Linked DNA regions of Homo sapiens. The protein of the gene in region 3 purifies or fractionates together with the protein of the main gene of each other region. This does not show direct contact. Each region holds a gene or a part of one and is shown on either strand. Other genes may lie near its edges.

Region 1 (3,500 bases), on a different chromosome or scaffold from region 3:
ACGGAGTGAGACTCCATCTCAAAAAAAAAAAAAAAAAAAAAAAGATCAGGAAGCTCTAGTGCACAGTCAGAGGAATCCAGCAGAATCACAGAATTAGGAAGTGCCAGACGCATAGGGACCCTAGAGATCTCCGGACTCCTCCTTCTATCACACAAAGGAGACAAGTGAGACCCAAGGGGATGGGAAGATGTATTCAAGGTCACACAGCCAGTGAAGGCAGAGCCAGGACCCAGATCATCTGAGATAAATTCCAGGCCCTTTCTTCACTGGATTAGGTGTTGCAAACTACAGCCCATGGGCCAAGGCTGACCTGACATTTATTTTTATATAGCTCCTGAACTTTATAAAAATAATTTTTGTATTTTCAAAGAGTTGTTAAAAAAAAAAAAGAATATGTGATAGAGATTGTATGTGGCCTGCAAAGCCAAAAACATTTACTATATGGCCCTTTATAGAAAAAGTTTGCTGGCTGGCATGCTGGCTCACACCTGTAAACCCAGCATTTTGGGAGGCTGAGGCAGGAGGACTGCTTGAGCCCAGAAATTCAAGACCAGCCTGAGCAACATAGTGAGACCTCATCTCTATACTAAAAATAAAAAAATTAGCCAGGGGTAGTGGTGCACACTTGTAGTCCCAGCTACTCAGTAGGCTGAGGCAGGAGAATCTGTTGAGCCCAGGAGGTTGAGGCTTCAGTGAGCCGTGTTCACACCACTGCACTCCAGCCTGAGTGACAGAGTAAGATCCTGTGTAAACAAAAACAAAAACAAAAACAAACGAACCACCACCCCAACTACTCCCCCAAAAAAAGAAAAGAATAAAGGTTTGCTGGGATAATAACTATATCCCCAGATTCTAACTCTCCCATAAGGACCCTGGAAGCCCTAGTCCCTCATTCCACCTTGCCCCAACACCAAATACACACCTGCTCTGCCTTCTTGGCCTTCTCCTTCCCTTGTTTGGGAGGCTCCTTTTCCTTTATAATTTCTTCTTCTTTATCCTCCTCTTCATTGTCCAGAGCAGCGAATTTATTTTGAGGCTAATAGGGAAAAGACAGGTCTGATGAAATGTTTTTTTTTTTTTTCTTTTTTTTTTTTTGAGACGGAGTCTCGCTCTGTCACCCAGGCTGGAGTGCAGTGGCGCAATCTCGGCTCACTGCAAGCTCCACCTCCCGGGTTCACGCCATTCTCCTGCCTCAGCCTCCCGAGTAGCTGGGACTACAGGCGCCCGCCACCACGCCCGGCTAATTTTTTTTGTATTTTTAGTAGAGACGGGGTTTTACCGTGTTACCAGGATGGTCTCGATCTCCTGACCTCGTGATCCGCCCACCTCGGCCTCCCAAAGTGCTGGGATTACAGGCGTGAGCCACCGCGCCCAGCCCTGATGAAATGTTTTAATTCCTGGGCCCCAATACCTCCTCCTGCTAGTTACTCTCTCACCTTAGCCTTCCCTTTTGACTTCTCTTCCTTTCCCTTTTTGCCCTTGAGTGCAGGCTGCTGTTCCTCAGATACGGCCTGGAGGAGACACACATACACATTACACACATACATACAAATTATTGTGCTACTTTGCTGTGTAATAAGCATTTCTAGAGAGTCTACTGTGTTAACCATACACATGCTCCTCCATTTACGACAGGTTGCATCCCGATAAACCCACCAGAAACTTAAATAAAAAATGATAGTTCTTGGCCGGGCGTGGTGGCTCACACCTGTAATCCCAGCACTTTGGGAGGCCAAGGCAGGTGGATCACAAGGTCAAGAGATCGAGACCATCCTGGTCAACATGGTGAAACCCTGTCTCTACTAAAAACACAAAAATTAGCTGGGCGTGGTGGCACGTGCCTGTAATCTCAGCTACTCAGGAAGCTGAGGCAGGAGAATCACTTGAACCCGGGAGGCGGAGGTTGCAGTGAGCCAGGATTACGCCACTGCACTCCAGCCTGGCAACAGAGTGAGACTCCGTCTCAAAAAAAAAAAAAAAAAAAAATAGTTCCAACTTATGATGGGTTTATCTGGATATAATCCCATCATGAGTTGAGGAGTACCCTAAATGAGTATGACTTTCACACCATCATAAAGTAGAAAAATCGTACACCGAAGCAGAAGTTGGAGACCATCTGTATTGAGTGCTGCTGACGAAAAATGAGACCCAGAAAAACCCTACCCTCCAGCTTCAGACTAGATAGCGAAGAGATAACTAGGGAACGTCAGCAAGGCTAAGGATTATAAGTCAGGCAAGTGCGCCACCAGAGTGAGTGGCACTAGCACTGGAGGCTTTCTCAAGAGCTCAAATGGACATGGACTAAGATGCACACGCAGAAGAGTCACAAGTAGAAGAGCAAGGACCTGGGGCTTTGTTTCAGGTTCTGTGCTTAAAGCAACAGAATCACTGTAGATTTCTGAGTGATAAAAATGGCATGGTTTTTTTTGTTGTTTTTTTTTTGAGACTGAGTCTTGCTCTGTTGCCCAGGCTGGAGTGCAGTGCCTCAATCTCAGCTCACTGCAAATTCCACCTCCCAAGTTCAAGTGATTCTCCTGCCTCAGCCTTCCAAGTAGCTGGGATTACAGGCGCACGCCACCACGCCTGGCTAATTTTTGTATTTTTAGTAGAGATGAGGTTTCGCCATGTTGGTCAGGCTGGTCTCGATCTCTTGACCTCGTGATTCGCCCACCTCGGCCTCCCAAAGTGCTGGGATTACAGGCGTGACCCACTGTGCCCAGCCTGGGCATGTATTCTAAAAAGATGATTTTAACAGTATAAGTAAGACAGACCGAGAAGAGCTAGTTTAAAAGCGGGAAATTACTCCACCATGGCCAGAAGGTGCTAAATGGAGTGAGAGTGACTGATCGAGCCACCACTGTCACCTTATTGATCCGATTCTTCTCCGGCTTGGCAGGCTTAGGAGGATGTTTTTCTTCCTCCTCCTCTTCCTCACTCTGATCCTGAATCAGGGCTGCAAAAACATTACCACCCTAGAGAATGAAAGGGCCACAGAAGTCAGTAGGATGGTCAAGGTTGCATCCTTGGAGTCTCCGTTTACCACACAGATGGCTTACCTTGGTTTTCTTCCCTCCGCGGGGTTTTGGGGCGGGTACTGAAATGACAGGGGGAGAACATGAGATAGGAAAGAATTACAATGTCTGGCCCCCCAATTGAATCCAACTTGAAGATCAGGGTATGAGGTATCACTCTCCATGACTCATGGATTCCAGGTACCCATTCCCCCTCAGGTCATTTACCTTCATCCTCCTCATCACTGGTTGGCACTGAGAGCTTCTTAAGACGCTCCATGAGCTCTTTCTCTTCTCCATCATCATCCACATCCTTCTTCCGCCTGCCTTTTCGGGTATCTCGCTTTTTTTTTTGCTGCTGAGAGCAAAAGAACAGTGAGAAAATGAAGCCCAGGCCCCTGCTGTATTTCTGCCTCACAGAGGGTTCCCCATCAGCTGAATGGAGCAACATGGGCTGGAAAGGGGTTGGTGGAACCCAGATGCCTCCCA
Region 2 (3,500 bases), on a different chromosome or scaffold from region 3:
AGGAGTTCGAGACCAGCCTGGCCAACTTGGTGAAACCCCATCTCTACTAAAAATAGAAAAAATTAACCGGCCGTGGTGGTGCATGCCTGTAATCCCAGCTACAAGGGAGGCTGAGGCAGGAGAACTGCTTGAACCTGGGAGGCGGATGTTGCAGTAAGCCGAAATCACGCCATTGCACTCCAGCCCGGGCAACAAGAGGGATACTTCGTCTCAAAAAAAAAAAAAAGAGAGAGGAGAGAGAGAGGAAGGAAGGACAGAGAAAGAGAGAGAGACAGAGACAGGAAGAGACAGGCTCAGACGGGCTAAGAGACGGGAGATTCTTTCCAGAAGGAAAGGTATCCACACTGGGTTCCTGAAACTGCTGATGGCGACCCGGGAGGCGCAGACTGCGCGGTGGCCAACTGCCGGCCCTCCCACCTCCCCGCGTCCCCGGCACCCTGACCTGCGGGGCCGGCCGCTCTCGTCGGGGGGCAGGACGGTGACGCAGACCTTGGGCGCCGAGCGCAGGAGCTGGGCAGCGGCCTCGGGCCGGAGGCTGGGCAGAGTCTGGCCGCACACGCGCAGGAGGCGCGCCCCGGGCCGCAGCCCCGCCGTCTCGGCGAATGTGAAGCGCTCCACGTGCGTGACGAATCCCTCGGCGTCCACCTCGAAGCCCAGGCGGCCTTGACCGTCGCGGGGCAGCGCCAGCTCGCGGGTCTCGCAGCCACGGCTCACCAGCTGCGGACGGGGCGGGACGAGTGGGCGGGGCTGCCGGGAGGTGGGGCCGCCCCAGCGCCCGCCCCCTGGACTGCGTCCCAGGCCACACGGAACTTTCCACAGTCCCCGAGGGCCGCGTGTGCCACCGCCCGAGGGATGAAGACCAGAAGTCGCTTACCCGAGGGCACCAGTTCCGGCCTTGCCAAGCCCCGGGGCTGGCTCTGCCCTCCTCGACTTTCCCTTCCGCAGGAGTAGGGGACAAAGGCGGCGGGAGGGAGGGGTCCAAAGCAGGCTCCGCCCCGCCGCGCGCAGGGGCCCCAGTTTACCACTCCAGCTCACCTGCAGGCGCGCCACCACCTCGCCCACGGCTTGGCCGGGGGACCCGTCGAAGCGCAGCGTGATCGCCTCCCCGCGGCCGTGGTACAGGTCCAGCTGCTGCTCGGAGAAGGTCCAGGCCAGCACGTCGCGACAGGCGCAATTGAACACTACGCGGCCGTCGCGCGGCGCCACCAGCACCAGAGCCTCGGCCGAGATGCCCAGCAGGCAGGGCACCTCGATGCCTTCGGGGCCGCTCGCCTGAGCCCCGGCGGCGACCCGCGCCCCGGGCGCCGCGCGCACTCCCCACACCAGTGAGCCCGCTGCCTGCAGCTCGGCGCCTGGGCCCCGAGGGGCCGCCCGGCGCCTCCCACCCAGGGAGGGCAGGCCGAAGCGTGAAGCCGAGTCCAGCGACGTAGTGGTCACCTCGTTGGTGGCCAGGTCTTGCAGGTACTGCTGGCGGGTGCGCGTGGCCATGGCGTGGAACTGGCGCGCGTGGCCGGCCGCCTGCTCACCATTCAGCGCTTTGGCCAGCAGGAAGGCCCGGAAGTCGGCGTTGGCTGCGAAGGGGCCTCCGCCAGCAGGCAGAGCTGGCCCGAAGGCAGGGGTGTCCTGGGTGCGGCTCACGGCCACCCTGCGGGGAGGGAGGCGTTAGTGAGGGGCGGCAGGACTCCATGCCCACGGGAGACCTGGGACCACTCCGGTGCCCACCTGTAGGTGGTGTGTGGCGTGCAGGGTGTGTGTGCCCGCACCACTAGGAACACGTGCTGGAAGTGCGAGCGGATGGTGGTGGGGCAGAAGGGCTTGCTGCCAGGCTCCTGGAACACGATGGTCACAATGTCGTTGCCAATGTGGCGCTTCCGGAGGAGCTAGGGGTTGGATAGTAGGGGCTCGTGATGAGGTCTTCTGTGCCCCAAACCCCTCCTCATTCAGGCAGGAGAAAGCCAAGGCACCAATGGCTCCCCCACTGCCCCTGGTGAAGACCTAGGGTGTTTCTGTCTTTGGGAAGGGGCCACCAGAGGGGCGGGCTGTTGGGGCCAACAGAGCTCCGGCCAAAGCTCAAACGTCATGGGCCATGCAGGGCCCTCCATGGTTCCCGGAAGCCCCACCCCCACGTTGGTCCCCCTCACACCTGCTGCTGGTTATTAGGGGTGTAAGGCAGCATCGTGGACACGTGGAACATGATCTCGTGGTCCTGGTATGTGGTGTAGAGGGAGTGCGTGCCTGTGGAATCCGCTGTGGCCAGGAAGTTAGGGACACAGAAGGAGAAAACAAGGGGAATCTAAGTGGCTTGAACTTGCCATTCCTGCCTGTACACAGGAGCCTCTGTGCCCCAAACAGCAGGTGGACAACCAGTCATGCCACCAGCCAATGCCCAGCCAGCGAGATTCAAGGGCCTCAGCCCTGGGTGCCCCTCCTCCTCTCCCTCCACAGGCTCCAGCCCCATGCCAGAGTGAAGGGGGGTCAGGATGGGAGAGTTGAAATAGAATGAAGACAGAAATGAGAAGTGGTCTCAGAGGGAGGGCAGGGTCAGGTGTCCTAGGAGGACAGGTGTCACTCCAGGCCCAAGCATGTGTGGCATGCTGGGAAAGTGAAAAGCAGGCAGGGGGTGCTCAGTACAACACCTCCCAGGGGTCCTGGGGCCCCTTCCACCAGGGAGGTAGGGGCACCTCTCTTCCACGAGGCTGAGCTGCTGGAATGTGTTTGGTGGAGGGGTAGTGCCCCCAAACCACTTTAGCCCCAGCTCAGGCAGTAGGGTACTTGGGCCTTGAGGGACAGTCCCAGCCCCTCTTTTCAGCCCATAGCTTGGCCCTCATAGCCCTGACTCAGATCCTTAGCTCACCCAAAGAACTCTCCAGTCCCCAGCCCCAGGATTGTACGGACAAAGGAGTGACAAGGCAATTTGTGCTCACCCCTTCAGCACAGATCTGCTCCCACCCCTCCTGCCCCTGGGCCTCACTTTTGGTGTCTAGCTGGGCCCGGTAACTCTCAAAGCCTTTGAGCCGCACCACATCGCCCAGCAAGGTGAGAAACTGCATGAAGGCCGGTCCCGCCTCCTGGTTGTTGTACATCTCCTCCTCCGAGCCCTGGCCCGCCCGGCAGTACAGGATGCCCACCTTGCGTTGGAAGCTCAGCTGTGGGTGGGAGACAGAAGGCATAGGTCTCAGTCCCCTGCAGCCCCACCCCACCAGCTCTTAGGGAATGGATGGGACGCTGGCCTGGGGCTGAGCACCAGCCCTCTCTGAGCCACTTGTGCCCTTGCCTGTCAGGTGAGTACAGTCTGTTGTGCTCCTCGTGCTTGGGAGTGCACAGGTAGGAAGGGATGGGAGGAGGCTGGTTCCCATGTGGCAGTAGAGAAGGTGATTCACAGAAAGGACCCTTCCAATAAACATACACATTATCATCCTCCTTATCTCAAGGCTGGACTGTCCTCTGCACCCCTGAATCCAAGGCACCCCCACCCCAGCCCCTGCAGGCCAGGCACCACC
Region 3 (3,500 bases):
CAGCTTTCTGTGGGCCAAGGCAGTCTCCATGAGGGTGGCCCTCCCTACTGCCCTACCCACCCCCTAAACAGAAGCAGCCCCACCCCTCCGCTGCCCAGTAGAAAGGCTTCAGTGCCCTACAGGGCTCCCAGCCTGCCCCAGACCCGAATACCTTGTAGGCCTTAATGAAGCGGCTAAAGAGGGAGAAGAACAGGCCTGGGGATGTGGTCTTGGGGTTCTCTCCGAAGTACTCCACCACAGACTCAAAGGCCTCCTGTGGGCACAGCCTGTCAGCCCCCCAGCTTAGACCTCTCACAGCCTGTACCCCTCAGGACACTGGCCACCTGATCTGAGCTCCTCCCAGGCAGGGTGGCCCCTCATTCCTGCTGCATCCCCCCAAGGGGTCCCAGCTACGGCCACACCCCTCCAGGCTGTGCTATCTAGTGCTCCTACATGCCCCACCTCCAGGTGAGGCCAGCCCTGGCGCACCTGAGCCGTCTTGCTGTCTGCCAGCAGCTTGTCCATGGTGGGCGAGTTGGCCCTCAGGAACTCCTTGAGCACCATGCAGTCATCCTGCCGCACAAACTCTCTCTGTGTCAACTCTAGGCCTCGCTGCAGGGAGCGCACGTCCGCCAGGACACTGTCCAGGGACACTGGGCCAGGGATGGGGCAGTATCAGGTCAGTGAATCGGAGAGGCAGCCCTCCCACCAATTATATACTGTGGCCCCCTAGCTTTCTCCCAACCTACCCCAGCCCACGGCCCCTCCCCACACCCAAGGATCTGTGTGTCTCCTACCTGAGCCCGCCTTGTCCAGGAAGTGCAGGTCGCTGTGGAAGCCTGTGAGTTGCGGGTACTTCTCAGCAATGACCTTCACCAGGTAGTGCAGCAGCGTCTGCTTGCGATCAGTCGACTTCATCTCCAACAGCTGCACAAGGACCCATTGTAAGCCACAGGCCACCAGCCAGTCCCCAGCCCCAGTCCCCAAGCCAGGGGCCCCTCCTCACCGCATCCAGGCTCTGGAGCCGGAAGCCATAGGCTGCCCCACGCTTGCTACTGTTCATGTAGTTGCCAAAGGCCAGGACAATCTGGGAGAGGCAGGAGAAAGGCTCAGCAGAATGCCAGAGCTGAGGACACCGCTTAAGCATATTGCACAAGGAGGAGAAGAGGTGGCAAGGAGCAGGCCCCACACACTCAGCCCCTACTGTACTCCTGCACAGGCCCCTCAGATCCACAGCACATGTACATGTGTGTACACACAGGTCTCACACATGTGCACGGTTAACACCATGGGCACACCAAATTTTGTCCTCTGCTAGTCCAACCCACAACTTGTTGCCAGCATCCCCTCCTAGTCTGTGTGGTCACTGCCTGTCCACCAGCCATTTCTACTGGTTCCCGGGCCCTCCACTGAGCAGGTGAGGTTGCTCACAGAGCAACGCTAAAGGGGACTGAGCCCTCCGGCAGGGTCCCAGGTGAGCTGCTACAGACACGGCTGCTGTACCCCTTCCCACTCGCCACCACCCTTAGATTTGTCCTTCTCAGCATGTACATGAGAAGTGGGAATGTTATCTTTGTTGCATTGCAGGTGAGCAGGGCCTGGGTCTCCCTCTCACACTATCCAGAACAGGCAAGGGTGGGCCCCACCTCCTGGCCCCTCACCTCCAGGATCTGGCGGAGTTTGTCAGAGGACTTGATGGACATTGAGGCTGCAATGATGGCATTCAGTTGCTGGGGGTGGGATGGGGGAGGTAAGATAAGTTGGAGCCTCCTCCATCTGGAGGCTCAAGTACTCCCAGGTTCCCTGCCGCAGCCCAGGCTGGGAGTTGCCTCCTGCCCATCCCCTCCCAAGTCACACCGCCCTGCCCGCTCCGCCCACACCGGCATGAGCAGCTGGGCTGTGTCCGGGAAGTTGCCCAGGAAGGTGAGTGTGGTCATGCGCTCCGGCAGGCGCGGGATGCGGCTGAAGCATAGCATGAAGCGGTCCTCCTCTGACAGCTCCTCCATTGGCCGCTGCTCCCGCTCAAAGCGGGTGATGAGGCTGCGCTCATACTCTGTGGGCAGGAAGCGCATCAGCAGCTCCAGGAAGTCCAGGCCCAGAGCCTGCAGGTCGTACCTGTGAGAGGGAGGAGAGGGGAGATTGGGCATCATCCATACCCACCAGTCCCTGGGAGCAGGGCTACCCCTGCCTTGATTGAATAAATGAATTTCAGTATTTTCTATTTGCCAACAGCTTCAGAGAGCAAGAGGTAGGAATCCAGAGAAACTGGGAACTGGGAATCCAGAGAAACTGGGAACTGGGCAGCCAGGGTCCCCATCGTACGTCAGCGGCGGACGCCCGGCTGTAAATCCCACAGCCTGGGTGCTCACAGCTAGGCAAAGAGGCAGGGAGGAAGTGGGACATCCTAATTTAGGCATGGACTGAGTTTTCTCCACCTTAAAATGGGGACAAGTTTCCTGGACCAGGGTTGGTATGAAGCCTGATGAAAGAGCTCACCATTGAGGCTCTTTTACTAGGATCTGCCTGACAACCCCAGCCTAGCAAAGGGGCCGGACTGCCCACAAACCCAGGACAGGGACACTCACGCCTCAATGGCTTGGCAGATGCGCTCGGCCCCCAGGTTGCCCTTCCGCAGGGTGATGGCCAAGTTCTTGGCCCGGTTGGCCTCAATGAGTGTCGCCTTGCTGGGGGCCTTCTGGGCTGCCTTACTCTTGAGAGCGCTGAGGTCCAGGCTGGGGCCTTGGGACTTGGTCTTGAACTGTTCCTCAAAATCACTCATGTCTAGCTCCTGAAGGTACAGGGTGAGGAGGCGGAGCTGGGTGGGGCTGGGGTCTGGCACTCTCCTGGCTGAGCACAGTGCTAGAGCCATCCATCTGGCCCTGACCAGGCCACCAGCAGAGAACCAGTAACCCAGCCTGACCACAGGCCCTGATGGGAGGCACAGGGGAAGCACAGGGAGCCTGGAGGAGGAGGGCCGCCTAACCCGGGGGATCCAGACTTGGGGCCACAAGAGCTAAAGGAAGAGCTGAACTGGCCAGCGGTAAAAAGGAGAAAGGAAAAGACATTCCAGGCAGAGGAAACAGAATGGAACAATGGCCTAGAGGCAAGAGAATACATCCTTTTGGAAAACTGGAAGTGGAATCAGGAGGGCTGAAGCCTTGGCTGCCTGTGGGAAAGTGGAAGGAAAGAGGCCTGGAGGCAGAAGAAGTGGGGTGAGGGGAGGCACCCCTCTGCAGGGATGGAGGGGAAGGCGTTTGGGAAAGCAGGATTCTGCCTGTTAGAGGTATTGGTCCAGTCTGGCTTAATGCCCATCCCTGGGCCTCCCCCTCCTCATCTGTGAAATGGCTTGGAGAAAATGACTACCCCCAGGGCCCAGCCTGATCCAGGCAACTCCCCTCTTCCTCCGGTGCCCACATGGGGAGCCAGGCAGGGCCACTCACCTGCAGCACCTTCTCATCATTGAGCTCTGTGAAGACAGTGCCGGTGATCTGGCTGGGTTTCAGTGCCACCCAGTTCAAGAG
Region 4 (3,500 bases), on a different chromosome or scaffold from region 3:
TTTTTAATGGGAAAGGCTATGTTAAAGAGAAATCCTTTTGTCCCATGGTCTCTCTTTTCTGTAAACTTTTCGTTTGTTTGTTTGTTTGTTTGTTTGTCTTGAAAGACAGGGTCTTGGTATAGCCATTGCACCCAGCCTGCTATAAACTTTCAGTTTTCTTTTCTCCAGAAAAGACAATCATGTATGTGTGTATGTGTATCTGTTACCTTCTTTCCTGTTGTATTCCAGTTCAACTTTTTTTTACTTAATATTTTTAAAAGTAATTATTTAGCCGGGCACAGTGGCTCACACCTGTAATCCCAGCACTTTGGGAGGCCGAGGCAGGCAGATCATGAGGTCAGGAGTTCGAGACTAGCCTGACCAACATGGCGAAACCCCGTCTCTACTAAAAATACCAAAATTAGCCGGACATGGTGGCAAGCGCCTGTAATCCCAGCTACTCAGGAGGCTAAGGCAGTAGAATTGTTTGAACCCAGGAGGCGAAGGTTGCAGTGAGCCGAGATTGCACCATTGCACTCCAGCCTGGGCGACAGAGGGAGACTGTCTCAAAAATATATATTTATCCAATTGGCTTTGATTTGTTGTCTTAGATCTTAAAATGTTGTCAGACCTTTGTTCTGATGCTGCAAAATCATCTGCATATTATATAGATGAAATCAACAAAGAGTTATGTTCTTTTATTCTATCACATTTAATATCGGTATGCCTTTGGATAAAGGAGAAAAAATCCATGTACCCATAGAGAAAGACAGGAGGGAAAGATGGGGAAAGATGAAGAGAAATTTAAAACCAGTCTTTCCTTAATCTAGATCTCCTTACTTATCCCAATGGTAGCATTTATGGAAAATTTGCTGCCTGTCAGTTACTTTAATACATTGTCATAAATGCTCAATAGAAACATAAAGAAGGTGTTATTTTCATTTCATGTATGAGGAAATGAGGCAAAGCAAGGCTGTAAACCCTAATTGATTTATCCGAATATAAATCTTCTCTGTTGGTTTGCCTGCTGCTACTCTCTCTCTGGCTGGTCATATGTTTCCCTGGGGAAAGATCATTAGACAAAACGTTAATGATTGCCTTGGCTACAGAAAAAACCAGGTTAGCCTTTGCCACTTTTTATCATTTGTGGATTCTGATCGCTCAAAAGCTTAGATTTTTATTATTCAAATCTAAATTCCAGTCTGTTCACATTCTGAGACTAATGTTCACATTTATAAATTTTATGCTCCCTGGACTGATAATATGTATATATGCTTCGATTCTTATTTAAAAAGTTAGTTTTTTCTGCATATAAATTAAGTAAAGCATATTCTTTTTCATTTATTTACTCTTAAATGCAAGTGACTTTTTCTTTTTTTTTTTTTAGACAGAGTCTCACTCTGTTGCCCAGGCTGGAGTGCAATGGCATGATCTCAGCTCACTGCAAACTCTGCCTCCCAGGTTCAAGCTATTCTCCTGCCTCAGCCTCCTAAGTAGCTGGGATTACAGGCATGCGCCACCACACCTGGCTAGTTTTCGTATTTTCAGTAGAGACAGGGTTTCACCATGTTGGCCAGGTGGTCTTGATCTCCTGATGTCATGATCCGCCCACCCCAGCTTCCCAAAGTGCTGGGATTACAGGCGTGAGCCACCACAGCCAGCCGCAAGTGACTTTTTCTAACTTCATTTCAGTGTTGCCTGTCAGCATTGATCTTGGTAATAGAATTCCCATTGTGTTTTATTAGTTTGAGTTATATAACATTTTTATTCTCTAATTTTTTTAGACAAAATATAGTCCCAATATATTAAACTTTGTCTTGGCCTCGTTGCTTTAAAATTTTTACAAGTCATTGCCAGTGACTCTCAAACTATTAATTGTTGATGTGCACAGTGACTGATGCCTGTAATCCCAACACTTTGGGAGGCAGAGGCTGGAGGATCACTTGAGCCCAGGAATTTGAGACCAGCCTGGGCAACATAACAAGACCACATCTCTAAAAAAAAATTAATTAACTGTACTTGAAATAAAATTGTATATTCCTCTATTTTAGTAGCTTTCTAGTCTTTTGAATTAGTTTTTTATTTTAACAAATCTGTTTAGGAGGCTATGGAAAGAATTTTAAAATGGCCTATAATGTCATTTGATATTTTGCACTGTAGGTGTAAAAATTGGAATTTTTTTCTGCTACTTGAATTTATAATTAAACATCCAGGTTCTATTTATCACATAGCCTCACCTACCTGGAACACCAGCAGAAAAGGGAAGTTTTGTTTTTTTTTTTGAGACAGAGTCTCGCTGTGCGCCCAGACTGGAATCCAGTGGCACCATCTTGGCTCACTGCAACGTCCCCCTCCTGAGTTCAAGCGAATCTCCTGCCTCAGCCTCCCGAGTAGATGGGATTACAAGCACACGCCACCACACCCAGCTGATTTTTGTATTTTTAGTAGAGATGAGGTTTCACCATTTTGGCCAGGCTAGTCTCGAACTCCTGACCTCAGGTGATCCACCTGCCTCATCCTCCCAGAGTGCTGAGATTACAGGCATGAGCTACTGTGCCCGGCCAAGGGAAGATAATTTTTTTTTTTTTTTTTTTTTTTTTTTTTTTTTTGAGACAGAGTTTCACTCTTGTTGCCCAGGCTGGAGTGCAATGGCGCAATCTCGGCTCACCACAACCTTCGCCTCCAGGGTTCAAGCGATTCTCCTGCCTCAGCCTCCCGAGTAGCTGGGATTACAGGCATGCACCACCACGCCCGGCTAATTTTGTATTTTTAGTAGAGACAGGGTTTCACCATGTTGGTCAGGCTGGTCTCAAACTCCTGACCTCAGGTGATCAGCCCACCTTGGCCTCCCAAAGTGCTGGGATTACAGGTGTGAGCCATCATGCCTGGCTGGGAAGATAATTTTTTTTCTTTTTTCTTTTTTCTTTTTTTTTTTTTTTTTGAGACAGAGTCTCGCTCTGTCGCCCAGGCTGGAGTGCAGTGGTGCAATCTCGGCTCACTGCACACTGCAAGCTCCGTCTCCTGGGTTCACGCCATTCTCCTGCCTTAGCCTCCTGAGTAGCTGGGACTACAGGCGCCCGCCACCAGGCCCGGCTAATTTTTTGTATTTTTAGTAGAGACGGGGTTTCACCGTGCTAGCCAGGATGGTGTCGATCTCCTGACCTCATGATCCGCCTGCCTCGGCCTCTCGAAGTGCTGGGATTACAGGCATGAGCCACTGCGCCTGGCGGGAAGATAATTTTTTAAAGGCTTCTGAGCAAGCAAAAAATTGATGTCAGAAAGTTCACATTCTAAAACTTATTCTAAAATTTTACTTACCAGAGAATCTCTTCAGTTTTCAGAGCCTATTTACCTATATTTTAAAACAGGTTTAAGAAGGTTGGCTAAGATTTTCTGCTACTCAGCAAGCTAGTAGCAGCAAGGAGCAATGTACATTTGTAGCAGTAAAAAGTAACTTATAACAGGGAGGGGATAGAAAAATCATAAAAAGCCGAAGTGAGACTTCAGAACTTAGGAGTTCA

The links. The genes of interacting proteins can lie anywhere in the genome.
Region 1: the proteins of FMNL1 (region 3) and ABCF1 purify together in Homo sapiens (affinity purification with mass spectrometry, with the first as the bait; one large-scale study listed by BioGRID). This does not show direct contact.
Region 2: the proteins of FMNL1 (region 3) and SIPA1 purify together in Homo sapiens (affinity purification with mass spectrometry, with the first as the bait; one large-scale study listed by BioGRID). This does not show direct contact.
Region 4: the proteins of FMNL1 (region 3) and TIA1 purify together in Homo sapiens (affinity purification with mass spectrometry, with the first as the bait; one large-scale study listed by BioGRID). This does not show direct contact.

The regions. Positions count from the first base shown.
Region 1 is NC_000006.12:30,577,942-30,581,441, reverse strand, and holds part of ABCF1 (ATP-binding cassette sub-family F member 1), read right to left. Parts: intron 3,367-3,500; coding exon 3,240-3,366; intron 3,095-3,239; coding exon 3,057-3,094; intron 2,973-3,056; coding exon 2,865-2,972; intron 1,512-2,864; coding exon 1,437-1,511; intron 1,037-1,436; coding exon 923-1,036; intron 1-922. UniProt on the Homo sapiens protein: Isoform 2 is required for efficient Cap- and IRES-mediated mRNA translation initiation. Isoform 2 is not involved in the ribosome biogenesis.
Region 2 is NC_000011.10:65,644,601-65,648,100, reverse strand, and holds part of SIPA1 (signal-induced proliferation-associated protein 1), read right to left. Parts: intron 3,147-3,500; coding exon 2,972-3,146; intron 2,248-2,971; coding exon 2,144-2,247; intron 1,881-2,143; coding exon 1,723-1,880; intron 1,646-1,722; coding exon 1,036-1,645; intron 718-1,035; coding exon 443-717; intron 1-442. UniProt on the Homo sapiens protein: GTPase activator for the nuclear Ras-related regulatory proteins Rap1 and Rap2 in vitro, converting them to the putatively inactive GDP-bound state. Affects cell cycle progression.
Region 3 is NC_000017.11:45,242,385-45,245,884, reverse strand, and holds part of FMNL1 (formin-like protein 1), read right to left. Parts: coding exon 3,420-3,500; intron 2,768-3,419; coding exon 2,565-2,767; intron 2,095-2,564; coding exon 1,860-2,094; intron 1,710-1,859; coding exon 1,641-1,709; intron 1,067-1,640; coding exon 986-1,066; intron 907-985; coding exon 777-906; intron 633-776; coding exon 469-632; intron 254-468; coding exon 152-253; intron 8-151; coding exon 1-7. UniProt on the Homo sapiens protein: May play a role in the control of cell motility and survival of macrophages. Plays a role in the regulation of cell morphology and cytoskeletal organization. Required in the cortical actin filament dynamics and cell shape.
Region 4 is NC_000002.12:70,231,629-70,235,128, reverse strand, and holds part of TIA1 (cytotoxic granule associated RNA binding protein TIA1), read left to right. Parts: intron 1-3,500. UniProt on the Homo sapiens protein: RNA-binding protein involved in the regulation of alternative pre-RNA splicing and mRNA translation by binding to uridine-rich (U-rich) RNA sequences.